Regions from separate parts of the Homo sapiens genome. Here region 2 is linked to region 1. Evidence: fine-mapped expression QTL. A gene starts in region 1. The other region holds a variant in brackets. All regions are shown on one strand. Distances are from middle to middle.

Region 1 (10,636 bases):
ACAACATGTATATTATAACAACTTCTGGTTTTGGGTACTGCAAAATCATAGATACTATAAATAACCATAATCAACACCAAACTACACATTTGATATATCCTTATCATCTATAAAGTGTATCTACAGTGTTTGAAAATTCTGGATTATTTATGAACTACTTAATAGAAGGGAACATATTGGTTTCCTCATGAAAATATACTAAATTCATGTAATACCACTATTATCTATAAATTAGGGCATTAATTAAATATAGTATGTATTTCTTACTAATCCATGGCCATGTCACCCAGAAACCTAGACATTATCTTGGACTCACTTTTCTTTCTATTTTGGCCCCATATTTAACCAACCACCATTTTCTGTGAAACTTAATAGTTTAACACCTCTTGACTCAACCACTTTTCTCCACTAATTTATCTCATTCTCCACTATCACCACTGCGATCTAAGCCAATATATCCTCTGTGACCCAGCCCCTCTTAACTTGTTATCCTCCTGCTTCTTACCATCCAGTAAGTAATCATTGCAACCAAAGTGATTATTTAATTTTTTTAATTTAAAATGATCATGTCATTCCCTTGCTTTTATTACAATCCTTCAATAACTTCTCTTAGTATTTATGATAAAAACCAAAATATTTAACTACAAACTCTCTAGAATCCTGACTAGAATTTGCAAACTCAACAACAACCAGGTTAAATATTGATTGATTTGTATTTACTTATTTCGCACTCTGAGTGGCACATGCCCGCCCCCGTCCCCCTCCCAAGGGAGCAGCTGCTACTGGGTTGTGGCTTGAATATTACCATCTGAAAATACACTGGATGTTGCCATAACCTCTAATTTTTCAAGAAAGATCAGAAATCCAGACTTTAACATGAAATCTCCTGATCTGTGAATGCTGACAACTAATTCAAACTTTTGTAACAACAATAAGGAGGCCAAAAAACTTGTAAGCAGGCCAAACCTGACCTCTCATCTAGTCTCATCACCCAGACCCACACCCTCTGCAACAGCCATACTTAACATTTCTCAGATTCTTAGTGATGCCAAGCTTTTTTTCCTTAGGGCTCTCACACATGTTGTGTCTTCTGCTTTGACCCTCAACCTCCCCTCAACCTCCAATTCCACTTCATTAAGCAATCTCCTACTCATTCTACGTTTCTGAGGCACACTTTCTCAATGAAGTCTTCCTTATTCCCACTGCCCCTCCACCCCCAACTCTATAGACTAGGTCACACATTCCTTGCTCTGAAAGCACTGAGTACAACTTCGTAACATTCATCACACCTCAAAAACAAAATTATTTATTTAATGCCCATCATCTCTCCCTAGATTGAAAGTTTCATGAAAGCGGGGCCTGCCACAGTAGGCATACATTTGTTGCCAACCAGTTTGGTTATAAAATGTTCCTTTAGACAATAAGATCCTAGTATACTTCTAAATATTAATCAAACTGTACCCTACTTTTCAGAAAATATACAGTATTTAAAGGAAAGTAGATTCCGAATAAAAATATTCCATTACAATTATAATCACTGATGATAATAATAGTTAACATTTATTGATCATTTACTAAATGCCAGGAACTATGTTGAGTGCTTTGCATGTACTATCTCTTTCAATAAAACAATCTGTAAAGTAGATACATGCCACTGTGATACAAAGGAAACAATATAGAGTTTTAAAATTTCTCAGTATCATAAATCTAATCAGTGGCAAGCTAGGGTATGAATCTATACAGTCTGACTCCAGAACTTAAACACCAAATTATTATACTAATCTATTAATAAAGAAATACTAACTAAACAAGTATCTCTTAAGTACTGCAAATAAGAAATGGTGACCATGACTTATTTTCCATTACTTATTAGTTAAAGTAACATTCCTCAGCCCTCTATCCTGTACCCTTACACACACACACACACACACACACACACACTAAATGAAGATAAACTGTCAATTTGTTTCTTCTAAATTAGGTAAGTTCTGACCCATACCCAAAATACATATGATCTTAGTACCAACTGTAAAAGTGCTATTTTTCTGAATTATTTTTAAATAAGTTAATGTTTATACATTTGATGTTTTCTGTTTCCACATTTTAAACATACACTTAATTTAAAAAGTATTTCCTTGCTCAAAGTAAAAGAAAGTTTATTACTACAGACTCTTTTCTGATATAGTAAACAACAGCAAATAATACGCTAAAGCAAATGTCAACTGATATAACCACAGAAATACAAAGAGATAACACAAGGATCCTTTGCCACCTGAACTCTATTTGAATTCTCGTTTTCCAAAACTCAGGAACCGAATAGATTCCAAAAACTGCATTGGAATCTATCCAGACTCACATGTATCACTTGCTATCCAGACTCTTACTAGCCAAAACTCAGGGCATGGCTCACAAACCACCCCTGCTATCAGAACAATAACCAATCTCTCATTCCAAACTCAGGAACCCAATAGTTTTAGATAGCTAAATACATATGCATATATATCCAAGGGCTTCATAAATTTAAGAATTCTTGTTTAAACTATTTATACAGACTGTTAAAAATGTGAATAAAAGGCACATATCTGTATTTTCATTCAAATTTCATATTTTAACTCCATTTACTGAGAATTTTTGTGTAAATGTTTTTAAACTAAAATGTGGTCATATTATTTTAAACTTTTAGACCATTCAAAATGTATTTTTTAAACTGCTTAGTACATGACAGATACTATTAATAATAGAGCTAAGTAATGTTAATGTGTGGCTGTTGTGAAACAGCTCTAAAAACAGCCTTAACACATTTTTTCAATATATTTCATATGTTATACAAATACCATGCGAAATAAGATTTTCAAGGAAAACTACTTTCACCGTTAATTTTTCAGTAACATATTTCACAGATCATATTAGTGTTTTCTTAAAGTCACAACAAGCAAAGTGCAAAATTAAAGAAACAAATACAGGAGTACAGTAGTCGAAAATGGCAAAAATTCCAAATTAACTTAGTTACAAAAGAATGGCATGAAACAATATTAGAAGTAACTACTCCATAAAATTCATCCAAAAGTCAAAGAACCATCACACAAGTAATGAATTAACTAGGTTGAGAAAAAAAGAAAAACCAGTTCTCATAAAACAGTGCATTTTCCCAAATATTTAATGTAGGCTTACACGTGAACCTAAGCTTTTTCGGTGCTTGACAAAAAGTTAAAACTATCATCAGATGGGAAATGAATTCAAGCACATGATTTTTTTTCCCACATACTCAAGAATTATTTTAAGAAACAAGGAAAAGATGGCAGGTTTAAGAAAAGTCAACTACTTTCCCAAACTCTTGAGTACAAATATAAAAATTATAAAAATTGTAACTAGAGCTCCCATTTTATCCTAGTTTGGCTATGCTCTCCCCAGAGCTCACTTTAGATTTAGTGATCTGAAAGAATGTGAACCCCTTAATCAACCAAATTCCAATAGTTGCTTGACACAGTCCATCTATTACATTAAAAGAGAGAGCAAAATTAAGTTTCACAAAAATAAATCTTGTCTACAAGCCTCACAAAGTGCAATAACTTAGGATTCAATACCTTTTAACTTAACTGATTTCATATACAGCACCAACACACATCCCCAAAAAAAGAACAAAAATCAGGATATTTTCACGTTAAGAAATGACAGGTATATTCTGCCCACGTTTGTCATCCTAAAAAGCTGACTCACTACTAAGCTTCAACTACAAGCCAGAAAACGAGAGCCCTCTGGGAGAGCACACCCAAAAGAGCTGTCAAGGTTCGATGCTTTGATTTCACATGGTGGCACAATGACTGACTCCAACACGTTATTAATAAATGCAGGCACAGCTTATGTCACCATTTCTTTAGGTTAAGTTTTCATACCTCCCTTCCCAGATGTCCACATTAGACACAACTCTGAACGCAAATGTTTTTCTTATATAAAACCGAAGAGAAGAACGACTTAGGTAGGACTCCAGTCCTACCAGTCTATGGACTCTACCATAGACTGGAGGTAGAGTCCCTCCAGTCTATGGTTTTATTCAGCCAGTCTTGAAGTAACAATACAATATTTATGACTCGAAAAATTACATTTTACTGCAAGAAAAAAAAAAGACAGATTCGATCCAATCACCGTACCTTGCTCTGCCAAATGTTAGTACCAGAACTTCTGAAATAAACAAACCTGTGTCTATGTTCATCGGGTCCATGGATCAGGAAGACTCCGGGGTTTTTAGCCCCTTTACCGGCATCTACATGTGGAATTAACACATCTTCTAAACCCAAATCAAAGCGTTTGTGTTTTGAAGAGTCTGGAAGGAAAAAGAATGCCCCAAAACACAGAGTGATGAAGGCACTAAGAATAAGGAGAAGAATAAACTTCTCAGAAAGTCTCAAGGTAGCCCTGTGATGTGGGAAGGAAGGCGGCCCCAGGTTCAGAGGTGGTATCCTACGTCCAGAGAGGGGCAGCAGGGCTGGGGTAGTCATCGTTTACGCTCTTGGAGAGAATACTTTAGAAAGTTCTCATCTTATGTCAAATGTAGAATACATTGAACTGTCTTCAAAATCTTGGCCAAAATGGGAAAACTCAATTTTGCTCCTCTTAAAGGACTGTTGTGCTTTTTAAGAGGGCACGTCATTCACGCCCATCCATTCCCACTCAGAAACGTGTGTGACCTCCCCCAAACGATCACAAGTTTAGGTCCTGCGATATCCTCTTCAACATCTGTACTTCATCGGATTATTACAAGCCTCCTCTTCATTCCTAGGGGTAGATCAGGCAAGCCACACTGCAGAAAAGCTGCAAGGTGGGTTCTTCCATTCCTGCACCTCAGTGAGATGCTCAAACGTAGTCTTCCGCCCCGAAAGGGAGACTGGCGACATCCGAGGAGTTGTAGAAGGTTCACTTGATCTCCTTCGACGCTTCTATTCCAGAATCTCTTAACCTTAGCGGTGGAAAAAATAAGGGTCTCCCACGGACGTCTGCAAACAGGGAGGAAGGTCTCCCACTTCGCTGGGAAGCCGAAGCAGCGGCGCTGGGCGAAGTAGCAGGAAGGAGTTCTCGGCCGCCCGCGCTTCCCGGCGCTGCCTGGCAGGAACCTGGCGCCCGGCTGAGTCCCGCTGCTGCCCACTCGACGGCTGGCGCGAAGGGCAATAGCGTCCGAAACACCTGAGTCCGGCCAGCCGCCGCGGCCGCCGCCGCTGTTGCTACCGCACGGGTCTGTCAGGGAGCGGAACTTCCTCCTCCGGCGGCCACTGAGAAGCCCCGGCGTGTCCTGGGGGAGGGGAGGCGCGGCGGCCGCCCCCGCCGAGCTCCTCCTCCTCCTCCTCCTCCTCTTCCTCCTCCTCCTCCTCCTCTCCGCGGCCGGTTCAGTGAACCCCGGCGCCTGCTCCCCGAGCTAGGCCGCCGGCCGCAGTGGCCGAGCCCTCGCGCCTAAGAAGCCGAGCCGGGGCCCACGCTCCGAGAGCCCGGGGTAGGCGCCGGCTCATTCCTCACTCAGCCCTGGAGCGGCGGGAGGGCCTGGGCGCGCGGGAGCAGCCGCGCCTCGGGCGGGCAGAGGTCGGCCGCGTCTCCTTCCTGCCCGGCCGCGGGGGCCTCCTCCGCGCCGCCTCCGGTGGCTCGCAGCTGCTGGCTCTGGCGGCGGCTGCCAGAGAGGCAGCGCGCCCACGCCGCTCGGGGCTGCGGCCCGGTCCCCGTACCCTGCCTCCCCAGGCCTGGTGAGCGCAGCAGCTGCTGGGCCGACACCCGTTGGGCTCACGCCGGAGAGGAACCGGAGGGCGGGGGCGATGGGACCCGGGCCGGCCTACCGGCCCCGGCTCGCGAGTGGGCGTCCCCGGGCGGCGGAGTGTGAGGTGCGCGCGCACGCTCCCGGCTCCGCTGCCGCCGCCCCTCCCCCACCCAGCCTGGCTGCCCGGGCTCCGGCCTCGCGCCGCTGCCGGCTCCAGCAGCCCGAAAGCGTACTGCTGCCGCCGCCGTCTGAGCGCGAAAGAAGAGAAGGTCGCCGATCTGCGCTGCCACGAGAACTTCACCGGTGCCCAGGGCCTTGCCACCGCCAGTTCGTGGGGTTGACCCAGCGTTTGGGCGAGAGGGAGCGAGGGGTTGGGTCGCGAAGGTTTCGCTGAAATGTAGTGTCACCGGAGTTAATGGCTTCTGATGGCTTAGGTTAACGTTTACTGTGATTCTTTGGAAGTCTTGTCTTCAGCGATAGACCGTCAGGCCCGAGGATTCAGCAACAGGGTCTCAAACTTCCACGCAGCAGCCCATGCTCACGTTATTGGGCCCCCGAGGCTCGATTAATAGAGCACCAACATGTGCCATGTTACGTTTTTAAAATAAAGTGGTGACCCTGCTCCTTCAGCTGGGCTTCCTTTCAGAGGAATCTAGGTACCCCCGATATGACAGGCGTCTCTTCATTGTTCAGTTTCTGGGGCACGTTCTATCATCTTCACACACCTCATCAACCCCCTTCCCATAAAAGAGAAAATGGATGAATAAGGAGGTGCTGAAACCCAAAAAGGCGACAATATTGTTTACGTTCAGGCTTAAAAACAATCTGAATCAATTCTGTTCTCCGTAGTATTGAGGAGAGCCATGTTGTGATTAAGTGCAAAAGATTTCCTTGCAAGATACATAGACTCTTGCATCCGATTTACTTGCAGGTTGTTTTTGTTCTAATATTGTCATTCCCTGTACACATCCTTTACTGATGACTGGGAATTGGAGAGGAGGCCCTTAAATGTCAGGAGAGTAAGTCAGCCTTAGCTTAAAAATCAAGCAGAAAAGTCTCATGTTCATTGGCACACTTGTAACTACATTCCAGTCTCCCAGTCTGCATTATTTCTAGAAGCTCTGCATATCTAACTGCCTACCACATGACAAAAGTCATTGTCATTGATCCTGCTTCACCAAATAAAAAGTAAAAATATTGAGGGCCACCTCTCACCAGTTCACCCAGGGAGACTGGTAAGCAAGGAGTGCCCGGTCCCTAGTGAGATTTATGTTGAACATTTGTGAAGAGTAGATATAAGAAACTTTTAGCCTTCCCAATATGTCTTTATAAAATGTGCCAAATTTAAGAATAAGTCTCTAATGTTGAGACTCCGTAAGCCAAAGTGGGGGGGGCGGTGGGGAGGCGGGGAAGAACACACTGTTTTCCTACTGTTGAGATCATTAGTTTCCATGAAAAGTTCAGGGGAAATAAATACTGAACTCTGAATGAAATAGCAAGTTATATAAATCTTGAAAAATAAATATTACCTAGGTTAACACTAGACTTAACCACAAGAGATTTCAATCATGAAACCTGACATAACCTAGTTGACAAGTATAGCTTAAGCAAGTAAGACCTCATTGCTGATGGAGAAGACCCCTTTTCCTTTGCTTGTCTGTTTTGCAAAATTCATTTTTCCTTCATGAGAGTAAAAACAATTTAGGGGTTATTGCAGATGTCCAAATGCAGCCAGCAATTTTAAAGTCATTGATGATACCGTCAGTTATCACACTCCTACACCAGCAATGAAAATACTGTATACATAGTATTACATATATCCACTCTTCTAAAGGCAAGTCTGAGTTTTTAAAGAATCATGTTGTTTAAAAAAAAAAAAGTTGCAAATGTATCCATTAATTATAATTATATGCACTTAAAAACATAGAAAAAGAATATTTGAAAAAGATTGCAACTATTCTGTTAAGATACTGGTTTTACGTATGATTTTCTCCATTGTATTCTGTTGCATTATATTTACAATTAAATAAAAATTATAAAGGAACTGGTGCCTGAAAAAGTTAAGGTCAAATTTCAAATAGGTAGACTCGGTAGTATCAAGATGAACACACAGACCGGCCCATCTGAAGGCAATCGGCAGAAACAGTATGCAGCCTGTTCTATGTATGTGTGTATGTGTGTGTACACGTACAACAGGGAAGGATTTCATTCCAGAGAGTCTAAAAAGAATATTTCATTTTCAAAGAGTAGTTACCCTTTGATCAGAGATTCCAAAGTGATGATTTCCCTTTTACAAATCCATATAAATTAATATTTTAGAAATTAGAATTAATAAATTACTAACAAAATTTACTCCTGCAGATTTACAGGACCACTCCTAAGATCCACTCGTATTGCAATGTGGAAGTTACTTGTATTTGTTCAACCATGTGTTGACTTTTCTATTATTGAAACCATTTCACACCTGTTATACACACACGCATGCACACACACACACACACACACACACATACACCCCTAGCTCTGTTTTAAGTGAAACTGAAGTGCTACAGGAAAAAAATAAAAGCTGGTATGCAAAAAGAGGCTTTTGATTTACTTATGTAACCTGTTCCAACTGGTGCCCAAAATGTACAAGGAAGATATTGGAGGAGAAATTACTCGACGTGACCACTGAATGTGTAGGGAAATAACAGGCTTCAGCCTTGCTCCTTCCAATCTTGCTTTCCTCTATGAGGCATTTTCCTCAGAGGTCAGGGATAAACTGAAGTTCAGTGCTGTGAAGCCCTCAAGTAAGATCCGTGAAAGTCGGCAAAGCCAAAAAATCTTGGCTGCTTCTCTGAGCCAAAGTACGTGAGGCTCATTTGCTTATAAAAGACTCATTTGTTGGAGGACTACTATTTGACAAATCCTGTACTAGGTGCTGGAGATTTGGAGAAATAAGTCAGAATCCTTATGCTCAGTGAGCTTGCAGTCTAGTGTGGAGGAGTAGATGAACACTGACGATTACAAGACAGTGGGAAGAATGCTGTTGGAGCAAAGTGTCACGGGCTTTATGGGAACACTGAAGGTGCCACAGAGTGAGAGGAGGTGGATTGGGAAAGTTAGGGAAAGTTCCCCAATCCAGTGTCACCTGAGCTGAGCCTTGAACCATAAGAGAAGGGTCGTGCTCCAGCCTAGGGAGCAGAGCATGCGCAGGCACCCATAGCTGGTTTTTCCTGCCATTTACGCAGAACACTTCCTGCTCTACTCGTCCAGTAAATAGCTTGCCTGGCCCTAATCTCACAACACTCTTGAGCTGGGAAAGTGAAAATGGTGGGGCAGTGCTATTGCATTGCAAATAAAATGGGTTCAGAATGACTAATGGGTATTGCCAACATGTTTCTGTAATGAAAAGACATAGATGGTATTCGTGCTTTCACAGGCAGTACCCTCTTGTTTCAGGCAATGTTTCACCTCTTTAAATCCATTAATAAAGTGAAGCCCTTTAAATGTATATGAGGTACTGAACTAGGAGTCAAAAGACATGGATTTCAAACCTAGCTCTACTCCTTACTGAGTTTCCTTATTTATAAAACATAATAGTCCTTACCTATTTTATAGGACTGTTTAAGGATCAAATGAGCTATTGTTTCTAAAATGCTCTAAAGACTTGTTTGTTCTATTCAGAATAATAGGTTGCTGATGGTTGTGTTTGTGTGACTTGGAAACATGAAATTCCAGTTTGTCTAGCATTCCTTTAGAAAACTATCTTTTCCCCGGTCTTAGTCTATTGGTCTAGATTGGGATGACCTCTCAACCACCCACTATAGCACTTGCTCCCACCATTAACTAGATCCAGGAATGTTACCCAGATTTGACTAACCTGTGTTCCACATTTCCCTGGCCATAATGATTGGTTTGGAAAAGGGCAAGTGACACAAACCAAGCTAATCCAAACCCTCCTTAGGTCATTTCCTGATGTCATCAGCAAAAGTGGTATCTCTTTACCTTAGAATTCCCAGCCCTGAGCGTGCTATAACCTTAGAGCTGCCAGTGGCCTTCTTGCCACCATGTGAGGAAGTTTGCTACTAATGAAGCAAACAGAGAAGAAAAGAGCTGAAACAGTGAGAGAGAAAGTATCTACATGGTATCACTTGAGCCCTTGGTAAGGGTGGATCTGGGTCTTGTGGGGCTGGAAGCATACCTAATTTGAGGAGTCCTCTTTAAGAAAAATAATACAAAATGAATTATTAAAGTGGATTTTAGGGCGGGTGTGGTGGCTCACACCTGTAATCCCAACACTTTGGGAGGCCGAGGCAGGTGGATCATGAGGTCAGGAGATTAAGACCATCATGGCCAGCCTGGTGAAAACCCGTCTCTACTAAAAATACAAAAATTAGCTGGGTGTGGTGGCGAGCGCCTGTAATCCCAGCTACTCAGGAGGCTGAGGCAGAAGAATCGCTTGAACCCGGGAGGCAAAGATTGCAGTGAGCCAAGATCGCGCCACTGCACTCCAGCCTGGTGACACAGTGAGACTCCATTTCAGGAAAAAAAAAAAAGGATTTTGCTAAACTGAATTCCATTACAAGTGAGTATGTCTTAGTAATGCTGAGACCACACCACCACCACCCGACCCACGCGACCAATGGAGCAGTGTGACGGATAGGAAATCAGAGTAGAAAAGAAACCACAATCTTAACCAATCGTGATTGAAATATTTTATTTTTACAAGATTTAGAAAAACATGATTATGTATACATGTTGCTAGGACCTCTCCCAGAGCCTAAGACAGGACCGAGCAATTAGTAACCCAGAAATTTAAACTTCATTGGGCTCATTGTAAATCTACTTCTCTGAATCCAGGTATATCTAAGGCTATTTCATCTTTTGAATTTCTCGGTTGTATAAGTCTATAAATTT
Region 2 (10,636 bases), 190 kb before region 1:
GAATGAGGGAGGGAGAGAGCCAGCTAGTGAGAGCACATGTCTTAAACAGTGTTCCTCCAAGGTTATTCCAGGGGCCAGCAGTGCCAGAATAACCTGAATTGTTTATTAAAAATGCAGATCCCTGGCACCACTGCAGATGACCTAGATCAGAATCTTTAGGGTGAAGCCTAGGGATCTGCACGTTTAAAAAGCACCCCAAATGATTCCTATATACACTAAAGTTTAATGACCCCTGCCAAAATCCCATGTCCAATACATGCTTGCTCTGAAATAATGTATGCCTTTTAATTGAGGTATACTTTACATATAGTGAACCTCAAACTTGTCAGTTTTAATGAATGCATATCAAGACACAGAACATTTCCATTATTCCAGAAAGTTGCCTCATGCCCCCTCCTAGTCAATTCTACCTCCTAAGCAACCACTGATCTGATTTCTATCATCATAGGTTAGTTTTACCTCTTCTCAAACTTTATATAATTGAGTTCATATCATGGGTACTTTTTTGTGGCCAGCTTCTTTCACCCAGCATATTTTTTGGATTCATCTATATCAAAATGTATATTGGCAGTTCATTCCTTTTTGTGGCTAACTAGTATTTCATTGCATGAACATATCACAGTTTGCTTTTCCATTCTTCTGTTGTTAGACATACAAGTTGTTTATAGTTTTTGGCTATTTTGAACAAAGTCCTGATGACAATTTGTGTTCAGGTTTTTGTGGACATATGCTTTCATTTCTCTTGGGTAAATACCTACGAGGGTGATATGGTTTGGCTGTGTCCACCCCCTCAAAATCTTATCTTGAATTCCCACTTGTTATGGGAGGGACCTGGTGGAAGGTAATGGAATCATGGCGGAAGGTCTTTCCCATGTTGTTCTCGTAATAATGAATAAGTCTCACAAGATCTGATGGTTTTAAAAAGGGGAGCTTCTCTGCACAAACTCTCTTCTCTTATCTGCCACCATGTGAGACATGCCTTTTACCTTCTGCCATGATTGTGAGGCCTCCTCACCCACGTGGAACTATAAGTTCAATAAACCTCTTTCTTTTGCAGATTGTCCAGTCTTGGGTATGTCTTTATCAGCAGTGTGAAAATGGACTAATACAGTAAATTGGTACCAGTAGAGTGGGGCATTGCTGAAAAAGATACCCCAAAATGTGGAAGCGACTTTGGAACTGCGTAACAGGTAGAGGTTGGAACAGTTTGGAGGGATCAGAAGAAGACAGGAAAATGTGGGAAAGTTTGGAACTTCCTAGAACTTGTTGAATGGCTTTGCCCAAAATGCTGATAGCAATATGGACAATAAAGTCCAAGCTGAGGTGGTCTCAGATGGAGATGAGGAACTTGTTGTGAATGGCTTTGCCCAAAATGCTGATAGCGATATGAACAATAAAGTACAGGCTGAGGTGGTCTCAGATGGACATGAGGAACTTGGGAACTGGAGCAAAGGTGACTCCTGTTATGTTTTAGTAAAGAGACTGGTGGCATTTTTCCCTTGCCCTAGAGATTTGTGGAACTTTGAACTTGAGAGAAATGATTTAGGCTATCTGGCGGAAGAGGTTTCCAGGCAGAAAAGCATTCAAGAGGCGACCTGGGTGCTGTTTAAGGCATTCAGTTTTATGAGAGAAGCAGAGCACAAAGAGCATAAAGCAGAGTGGAAAATTTGCAGCCTGACAATGTGACAGAAAAGCAAAGCCCATTTTCTGAGGAGAAATTCAAGCTGGCTGTAGAAATTTGCATAAGTAACAGGGAGCCGAATGTTCATCCCCAAGACAATGGGGAAAATGTCTCCAAGGCATGTCAGAGGTTTTCATGTCAGCTCCTCCCATCACAGGCTCAGAGGCCTAGGAGGAAAAAGTGGTTTCATGGGCTGGGCCCAGGGTCCCTGTGCTATGTGCAGCCTAGGGACTTGGTGACCTGTGTCCCAGCTGCTCCAGCCATGGCTAAAAGGGGCCAATGTAGAGGTTAGGCCATGACTTCAGAGAGTGCAAGTCCCAAGCCTTGGTAGCTCTCACACGGTGTTGAGCCTGCGAGTGCACAGAAGTCAAAAATTGGGGATTGGGAACCTCCACCTAGATTTCAGAAGATGTACAGAAATGCCTGGATGTCCAGGCAGAAATTTGTTGCAGGGGCAGGGCTCCCATGGAGAACTTCTGCTAGGACAGTGTGGAAGGAAAATATGGGGTCAGAGCCCCCCTACTGGGGCACCACCTAGTGGAGCTGTGAGAGGAGGGCCACCATCCTCCAGACCTCAGAATGGTAGATCTACTGACAGCTTGCACCATGCACCTAGAAAAGCCACAGACACTCAGTGCCAGCCCATGAAAGCAGCCAGAAGGGAGGCTGTACCCTGCAAAGCCACAGGGGTGGAGCTGTCAAAGACCATGGGAATCCACCTCTTGCATCAGCATGACCTGGATGTGAGACATGGAGTTAAAGGAGATGATTTTGGATCTTTAAGATTTGAATGCCCTGCTAGATTTTGGACTTGCATGGGCCCTGTAACCCCTTTGTTTTGGCCAATTTCTCCCATTTGGAATGGCTGTATTTACCCAATGCCTGTGCCCCCATTGTATCTAGGAAGTAACTAGCTTGCTTTAGATTTTATAGGCTCATAGGCAGAAGGGACTTGCCTTGTCCAAAGACTTTGGACTGTGGACTTTTGAGTTAATGCTGAAATGAGTTAAGACTTTGGGGGACTGTTGGGAAGGCATGATTGGTTTTGAAATGTGAGGACATGAGATTTGGGAGGGGCCAGGGTCAGAATGATATAGTTTGGCTGTGTCCCCATCCAAATCTCATCTTGAATTCCCACATGTTGTGGGAGGGATCCAGTGGGAGGTAACTGAATCATGGGGGCTGGTGTTTCACGTATTGTCTCATGATAGTGAATAAGTCTCATGAGATCTGATAGTTTTAAAAGGGGGAACTTCCCTGCACAAGCTCTCTTCTCTTGTCTGTCTCCATGTGAGATGTGCCTTTCACCTTCTGCCATGATCGTGAGACCTCCCCAGTCACATGGAACTGTAAGTCCAGTAAATCTCTTTCTTTGGTAAATTGCCCAATCTCAGGTATGTCTTTATCAGCAGCATGAAAATGAACTAATACAGAGGGGAAGTACTAGGTCATATGGGAAATGTGATGGGGTGAGGTAGGCAGAATTCTAAATGGTCCTTATGATCTCTGCCTCCTGGCTCTACACCCTCTCCTCTTGAGTGTGGGCAGGATCTATGACCTATTTCTAACCAACAGAGTACGGCACCAGTGATGGATGTCACCTCTATGATTATGTTACTTTGCATAAGACTCCATCTTAGCCAACTGGAATGAGAGACTCTCCCTTGAGCTACAGGGGCCTCTAGAAACTGAGAGCAGCCCCTTGCTCACAGCCATCAAGAAAGTGGGACCTCAGCCACAACTGAATTCTGCCAACGACCATGTCAGCATAGAAGAGGACCCCAAGCTCTGGAAAGGAACAAAAACCGATGGCAATTTTGATTCTATTCTTGTGAGGCCCTGAGTGGAGGTCTCAGCCAACCTGTGCCTGGACTCCTGCCTACAGAAACTGTGAGATAATTAATGTTCACTGTTGTCCATCACTATATTTGTAGTAATTTGTTATGCAGCATAGAATACTGATACATGAGGAAAGGAAAATCACATCAATAAATGGGCCACAGACCTAAATGGAAAAGCTAGAAAGTTACTAGAAAGAAACACTGAAGAATGTCTTCATGACCTTAGAGAAGAAAAAAATTTTCTCCAGAGGATTCAGAAAATATTAGCCATAAAAGAAAAAATTGCTAAATTGCAATTTCAGCAAAATTTTAAAAATTTTTCTAACTAAAAGACACAATTTAGAAAATACTTAAGTTACAGGTTGGGAGAAAATATTTGCAACACATAACATTGACAAATGACTTGTATGTGCATGCATAAAGATTCCTATAACTAAAGAATGAAACAAGTCAATTAAAAAGAACATAAAAGAAGAGGGACCAATGGCCAGTAAGCCCATGATGCCCATGACAAAATGCTCAACCTCATTAGGCATTAGGCAAAATGCAAATTAAAACCACAATGAGATATCAGTACATATCAACAGGAATGACGGAAATGAAAAAGACAATACCAAATGCTAAAATAAAAAGAGATCAACAACAATAAATGTTGGAGAGGATGTGGAACAGCTAGGATAAGATCTTATACATAGCTAGAGGAAGTGTAAAATGTGCAGTCACTTCACAAAACTGAAGTTTCTTCAGAGTTTAAATATCTACCTTAGTTTGATTTTATAGCTTACAACAATAAAACCACATGCCTTCATCAGTAACTAGCATTTGAAATGTGTTTTTTAAAATCAATGTTATAAG[T/C]GTACATGATAGAAGAGTCAGTTAGACTTAATTCAGTAAGACTTAAATGATAGAAGAGTCAGACTTAATTCAGTAAGACTTAAAAAAGAGGAACTATCAACTCCCTATTTCCTTTTCTCAAGAGGGAAATCCTTTCAATTCCATTAGTTTTCTTTTCTTTTTTAACTTTAACTTTTTTGGTTTTTCAGTCTAATTGACTTTTTACTAGTGAAGATAAGGATTTATTTCTGTTTAACCACCACTACTACATGACCAATATCTCTTCCCTTACCCTATTCTTCCAGTGTAGCTATATCTCAATTGTTGGATATTTAATATTTCTAATGTTACTACTAAACTCTATTAAGGACTGAGCCTAATAATAATAATACTAGCCACCCTATTATTTTTTCTTTCTTGCCCTACTTTTAGTTTTCTTTGAAGTTTCTTCTTTAATTATTTGCTTAGTTTTAATCTTAGCCTCTAAAAAGTAGAGTCTGAAGCAAAAATTAAAGTGCTGTTACTCTATTTGGGAGATGCAAATCCAGATCACTGAGGTTGAGGAAAAAGGAAGGGAGGCAAATAAAGACGTGAAGCAATGCAAAATGACATGTTACTGCACTTGGCTGCTGCTGCATAAAGAACCACTTAGTGACACAGCGGGTTGTTCAGCAGGTCTGTTCATTTGGCACCCGAGACTTCTCCAGATGGGTTGCAAGAATAAATCATGCTTCAATGTCCACCATAGAAGAAAAGAAGAAAAGTGATTTGTCCTCCAGGCTCCTTCTTGTCTCTGGATTCTTGTTTGGTAAAATTCATCTCATGTGAATGTATTCCCTTGTACTTCTAGATTGCATTAACCCAGTCCCTTCATGGGCTGCCCACTTGAGATCCTAGATCTCACACCCTGTGCTGTAGTGTTTTATCCAACCCTGGAAGAGACGGAAGGAGAAAAACTCTGAAGGAATGGCTAGTTGGCCTAGCTTCAAGAATAGCTACAAGAGATGTAGGGAGCTTGCATCTCATATAGTTTTCTATACACTTATCACTGATACAACCCCAGCTTTCACCTATCCACTGAAAACTCCTCTCAATCACTCAAATAAATGAGGGTATTCCATCATTTTCCACTTCCTGGAGCTCTATCTCTGGATCCATTTGACCATACTCCACTCTGGACTGGTTGACATCTATACTTCGTACACAGCTGTTATCCTGAAATCTCCTTTCACCGTCATTTTGAGTTTTTCTCCTTCTGTCTCTTAAGTTGAAACTGTTTCCTGAATTACATATCTTCTTCTTTTCAACCTATCCATCTGACAAATGGCTAATATCTAGAATCACAAGGAACTTAAACAAATTTACAAGAAAAAAACAAACAACCCCATCAAAAAGTGGGCAAAGGATATGAACAGACACTTCTCAAAAGAAGACATTTATGCGGCCAACAAACATATGAAAAAAAGCTCATCATAATTGGTCATTAGAGAAATGCAAATCAAAACCAAAAGGTCATACCATCTCATACCAGTTAGAATGGTGATTATTAAAAAGTCAGGAAACAACAGATGCTGAAGAGGATGTGGAAAAATAGGAACGCTTTTACACCGTTGGTGGGAGTGTAAATTAGTTCAACCATTGTGGAAGACAGTGTGTGATTCCTCAAGGATCTAGAACCAGAAATACCATTTGACCCAGCAATCCCACTACTGGGTATATACCCAAAGGATTATAAATCATTCTATAAAGACACATGCACACATATGTTTATTGCAGAACTATTCACAATAGCAAAGATTTGGAACCAACCCAAATGCCCATCAGTGATAGACTGGATTAAGAAAATGTGGCACATATACATCATGGAATATTATGCAGCCATAAGAAAGGATGAGTTCATGTCCTTTGCAGGGACATGGATGAAGCTGAAAACCATCATTCTCAGCAAACTAACACAGGAACAGAAAACCAAACACCACATGTTCTCACTCATAAGTGGTAGTTGAACAATAAGAACACATGGACACAGGGAGGGGAACATCACACATCGGGGCCAGTTATGGGGGTGAGAGGCTGGTGGGGGGATAGCATTAGGAGAAATACCTAATGTAGATGATGGGTTGATGGGTGCAGCAAACCACCATGGCACATGTATACCTATGTAACAAACCTGCATGTTCTGGACATGTATCCCAGAACTTAAAGTATAATAATAATAATAAAAAAATAATCCTTAGAGGAAAATTACCAAATTATCATTATTTCCCTATAAAATTAAAGAGGCAAAACACAACTAAGATAAGGTTTCTGCCCACAACACATTTACAGTTTTAAAAGAGATTAATAGGTTGGTAGGTTTAAGTTATACAAACATTAAGCAGTGACCAGGTACAGTGGCTCATACCTGTACTCCCAACACTTTGGGAGGCCAAGGTAGCCAGATTGCCTGAGCCCAGGATATCGAGACCAGCCTGGGCAACATGGTGAAGCCCCGTCTCTACAAAAATACAAAAAATTAGCCAGACATGCTGGCATGCTCCTTTAGTCCCAGCTATTCAGGAGGCTGAGGTGGGAGGATCACTTGAACCAGGGAGGTTGAGACTGCAATACGGCATGATTTTGCCACTGCACTCAGCCTAGCAACAGAGTGAGACCCTGTCTAAAAATAAATAATAAAAATATTAAGCAAAGCAAGGCATAATTTAGTACTAACTTGATTGATGCAGAACCTATAGGAGATGTGAAGCCACTTTCTTGGTTTATACTTTTGTTTTGGTAAAAGACCTCCTAAGAAATGGTGCATAGTATGAATAGGGTGCATATAGTTCAATTCTGGCCTTGGTATTAAGCCTCAGCCTTAAAAAGGCCAAAAAGCCAAATGCATACTTAAACATAATTTCTGGCATCTATAAATTTTTACTAATCAATAATCTTGTGACCTTCAGGGTTACCACCATATCTAATTAGTGCTGAATCATCAGTAATGTGAATAAGCCACACCATTCAAATTATTGCTAATATTAGAATATTCACCTTCAAATATCAGTAGTCACTTTAGATGACTTTTGGAGTGAGAATCTACTTGTGTGCTTTATACATTGTAAATCTATCAGTTACTTGAACATGTACTCCCAAACACAAAATGCATTTGTATTATTCAAAAATTGAACATCTGGTAAAATTTGGCTGTGAATTCATCTGGCCCTGGGCTTTTCTTGGTCAGGAAATTTTTTATTACTAGTCAATTTCATTACTCGCTATTGGTCTGTTCAGGATTTCTATTTCTTCCTAGTTCAGTCTTGGAAGGTAGTACATTTCCAGGAATGTATCCATTTCCCCTAGGGTTTCTAGTTTGTGAGCATAGAGATGTACAAAGTAGTCTCAATTGATCTTTTGTATTTCTGTGGTATCAATTGTAATGTCACCTTTATGATTTCTGATTGTGTTTATTTGAATCTTCTCTCTCTTTTTCTTGGCTAGTCTAGCCAGTGGTCTATCAATTATGTTTATCTTTTCAAAGAACCAACTTTTTGTTTCATTGATCCTTCATATCATGTTTTTTTTTTTTTTTTTTTTTGTCTCAACCTCACTTAATTCTGCTCTAATCTTTGCTATTTCTTTTTCTTCTGCTAGCTGTTGGTTTGGTTTGTTTTTATTTTTCTAGTTCCTTGAGGTGTGACATTAGGTTGTTGATTTTAGGTCTTTCTATCTTTTTAATGTAGCCATTTAACACTATAAGCTTCCAGCACTGCTTTTGCTATATCCCAGAAGTTTTGGTGTGTTGTGTCTCTTTTCATTTGTTTCCATCTTTTTAATTTCTGTATTAATTTCATCATTTACTCAAAGATCATTCAGGAGCAACTTGTTTAGTTTCCATATATTCAAATACTTTAGAGAGCTCCTCTTGATATTGAGTTCTAATTTTATTTCACAGTGGTCTAAAAAGATATTTCATATGATTTTTTAAAAATTTATTGAGACTTGCCTTATGGCCAAGAATATGGTCTATTTTCCAGAATGTTCCACATTCAGATAAGAAAAATGTATATTTTGCAGTTGTTGGGTAGAATGTTCTGTAAATGTCTATTAGGTAGGTCCATTTGGCCTAGAGTCCAGTTTAAGACTTTGCTGATTTTTTGCCTTGATGATCTGTCTAGTCCTGTCAGTGGGGTGATAAAGTTCCCCACCATTATTGCATTGCTGTCTCTTTTCTTAGGTCTAGTAGTATTTGTTTTATGGATCTTGGTGCTTTGGTATTGGGTGCATATATATTTGGGATAGTTATATCTTCTTGTTAAATTGAACCATTTGTCATTATATAATAACTTTTGTCCTTTTTTACAGTTATTGATTTAAAGTCTGTTTTATCTGACATAAATATAGCTACTCCTGCTCATTTTTGTTTTCTGTTTGCATGGTATAGTTTTTCATATGTTTATTGCAGCACTATTCACAATAGCAAAGTCATGGAATCAACCTAAGTGTCCATCTACAGATGACTGGATAAAAAATGTGGTAATTGTATTTATATATATATACACACACACACACATACACACACACACACGATGGAGTGCTACACAGCCACAAAAATGAAATTATGTCTTTTGCAGCAACATAAATGGAGTTGGAGGCCATTACTATAAGTGAAATAACTCAGAAACAGATAATCAAATACTACATGCTCTCACTTATAAAGGGAGCTAACCAGTGGGTACACATGGACATAGAGAAGGAACTAACAGACACTGGGGACTTCAAAAGTGGTAACAGTAGGAGGGGGTAAGGGTTGAAAAATTACCTGTTGGGTACAGTGTTTACTATCGGGGTGATGGACACGCTGGAAACCCAAACTTCACCATTACACAACATATCCATGAAGCGAACCTGCATCGGTACCCCCTCAAACTATTAAAAAAATTGAAATGCTATAAAAAGTAATGAGCAATTTTACATATGAAAACAATTATTAAAAACAGCCAAATAGCTGAATATATAGGAAACAGAGTGTTGATTTGAAGGTTAAAAAAGAGTGGATTCGTGACATAAACATAGGAAGAACTTCATATCCTTTTTGAATAAAATGTTAATTAAAAACTAAATGATACAAGAAAGAATAACAAAGATTAGATTATATCATAATTCACATCATTATAGAATTGTTTGAGGTACTAGCACTCAAAACACTAACAAAATAAACTTTAATAACTATATTTAACTTTTTGTTATTTCCCTTTAGGCCGAAGGTATTTCAAAAAAATTTGTCACAGCTTGTGAGGATATGCTTTGCCCTCTCAACATTTCATGAAAAGAAAAAACTCCAAAACCATGTACAACATCATCCATGATTAATCATCTTCAATGTAGACATAACAAAGATACAAATAATACATTTCACAATTTTAGAAAAAACTGAGGTAAACAAAACACATATTTTTCTTGCTGATAAAATATCAAAGTAACAGACATCACAAGAGTTCTTTAAGTTTTTTTAGTTTTGAGTCTTTGGAGGATAAAAATGTAAATAATATACTTGTTCAAAGAGTTGCAATAGACTATGATAAATTTTCAGTAATTAAAGATGATGGATTTTTAGCTGGGTGAGGTGGCTCATGCCTGTAATCCCAGCACTTTGGGAGGCCGAGGAGGGTGGATCACCTGAGTTCAGGGGTTCAAGATCAGCCTGACCAATATGGTGAAACCCTGTCTCTAATAAAAAATACAAAAATTAGCCGGGCGTCATGGCGGGTGCCTGTAATCCCAGCTACTCAGGAGGCGGAGGCAGGAGGATTGCTTGCACCCAGGAGATGGGGGTTGCAGTGAGCTGAGATCGTGCCACTGCACTCCAGCATGGGCGACAGAGTGAGACTGTCTCAAAAAAAAAAAAAAAAAAAAGATGATGGATTTTTGAGATTTGTTCAAGCTATGAATTCCAGATTAAATTAAATAAAAAGATATTTAAAAACACTCCTGATTATATTCTTTTATGCAATGGAGATATGATTTGTCATGCTTTGGATGTTAATATAGTTATATCTGCTTTCTTTTGATTAGTATTTCCATGGCGTACCTTATTCCTTCTTACTACTTTTTACATTTCTAATCATTATATTTCAACTGAATTTATTGTGAGCAGCATATAGCTCAGTTTTTATTGTCTGAAGTGGGGGCAGTTGAGATTTTAATAACATAAATCAATGTTGGGCCCTGCCTGTCAGTGCCAGGCCCATGGGCCTCCTATCTTTCTATTGCTTGGATGGCTGCCTGCAGCCAGGCTTCC

Which allele goes with the higher level. Positions count from the first base shown, and alleles are read on the strand shown. Sizes are in standard deviations (SD) of each study's normalised expression.
In carriers of allele T in region 2, the expression in gastroesophageal junction of the gene that starts at base 5,231 in region 1 tends to be lower than with C alone (small effect, 0.17 SD a copy in GTEx).

The links.
Region 2: its variant is fine-mapped to the expression of MAN1A2 in gastroesophageal junction (GTEx, PIP 0.90).

Annotation. Positions count from the first base shown.
Region 1 is chr1:117,362,044-117,372,679 of GRCh38, reverse strand. It overlaps MAN1A2 (mannosidase alpha class 1A member 2), which reads right to left and starts at 5,231. Exons shown (of 13, transcript NM_006699.5): 1 at 4,195-5,231. The coding sequence starts at 4,496. RefSeq lists an enhancer at 4,166-4,305 and silencers at 5,176-5,995, 8,916-8,975.
Region 2 is chr1:117,550,363-117,560,998 of GRCh38, reverse strand. No RefSeq gene overlaps it. Among named protein-coding and RNA genes, the nearest start is that of TENT5C-DT, 50 kb to the left of the region's middle. The variant T/C (reference allele first, on the strand shown) is at 4,378.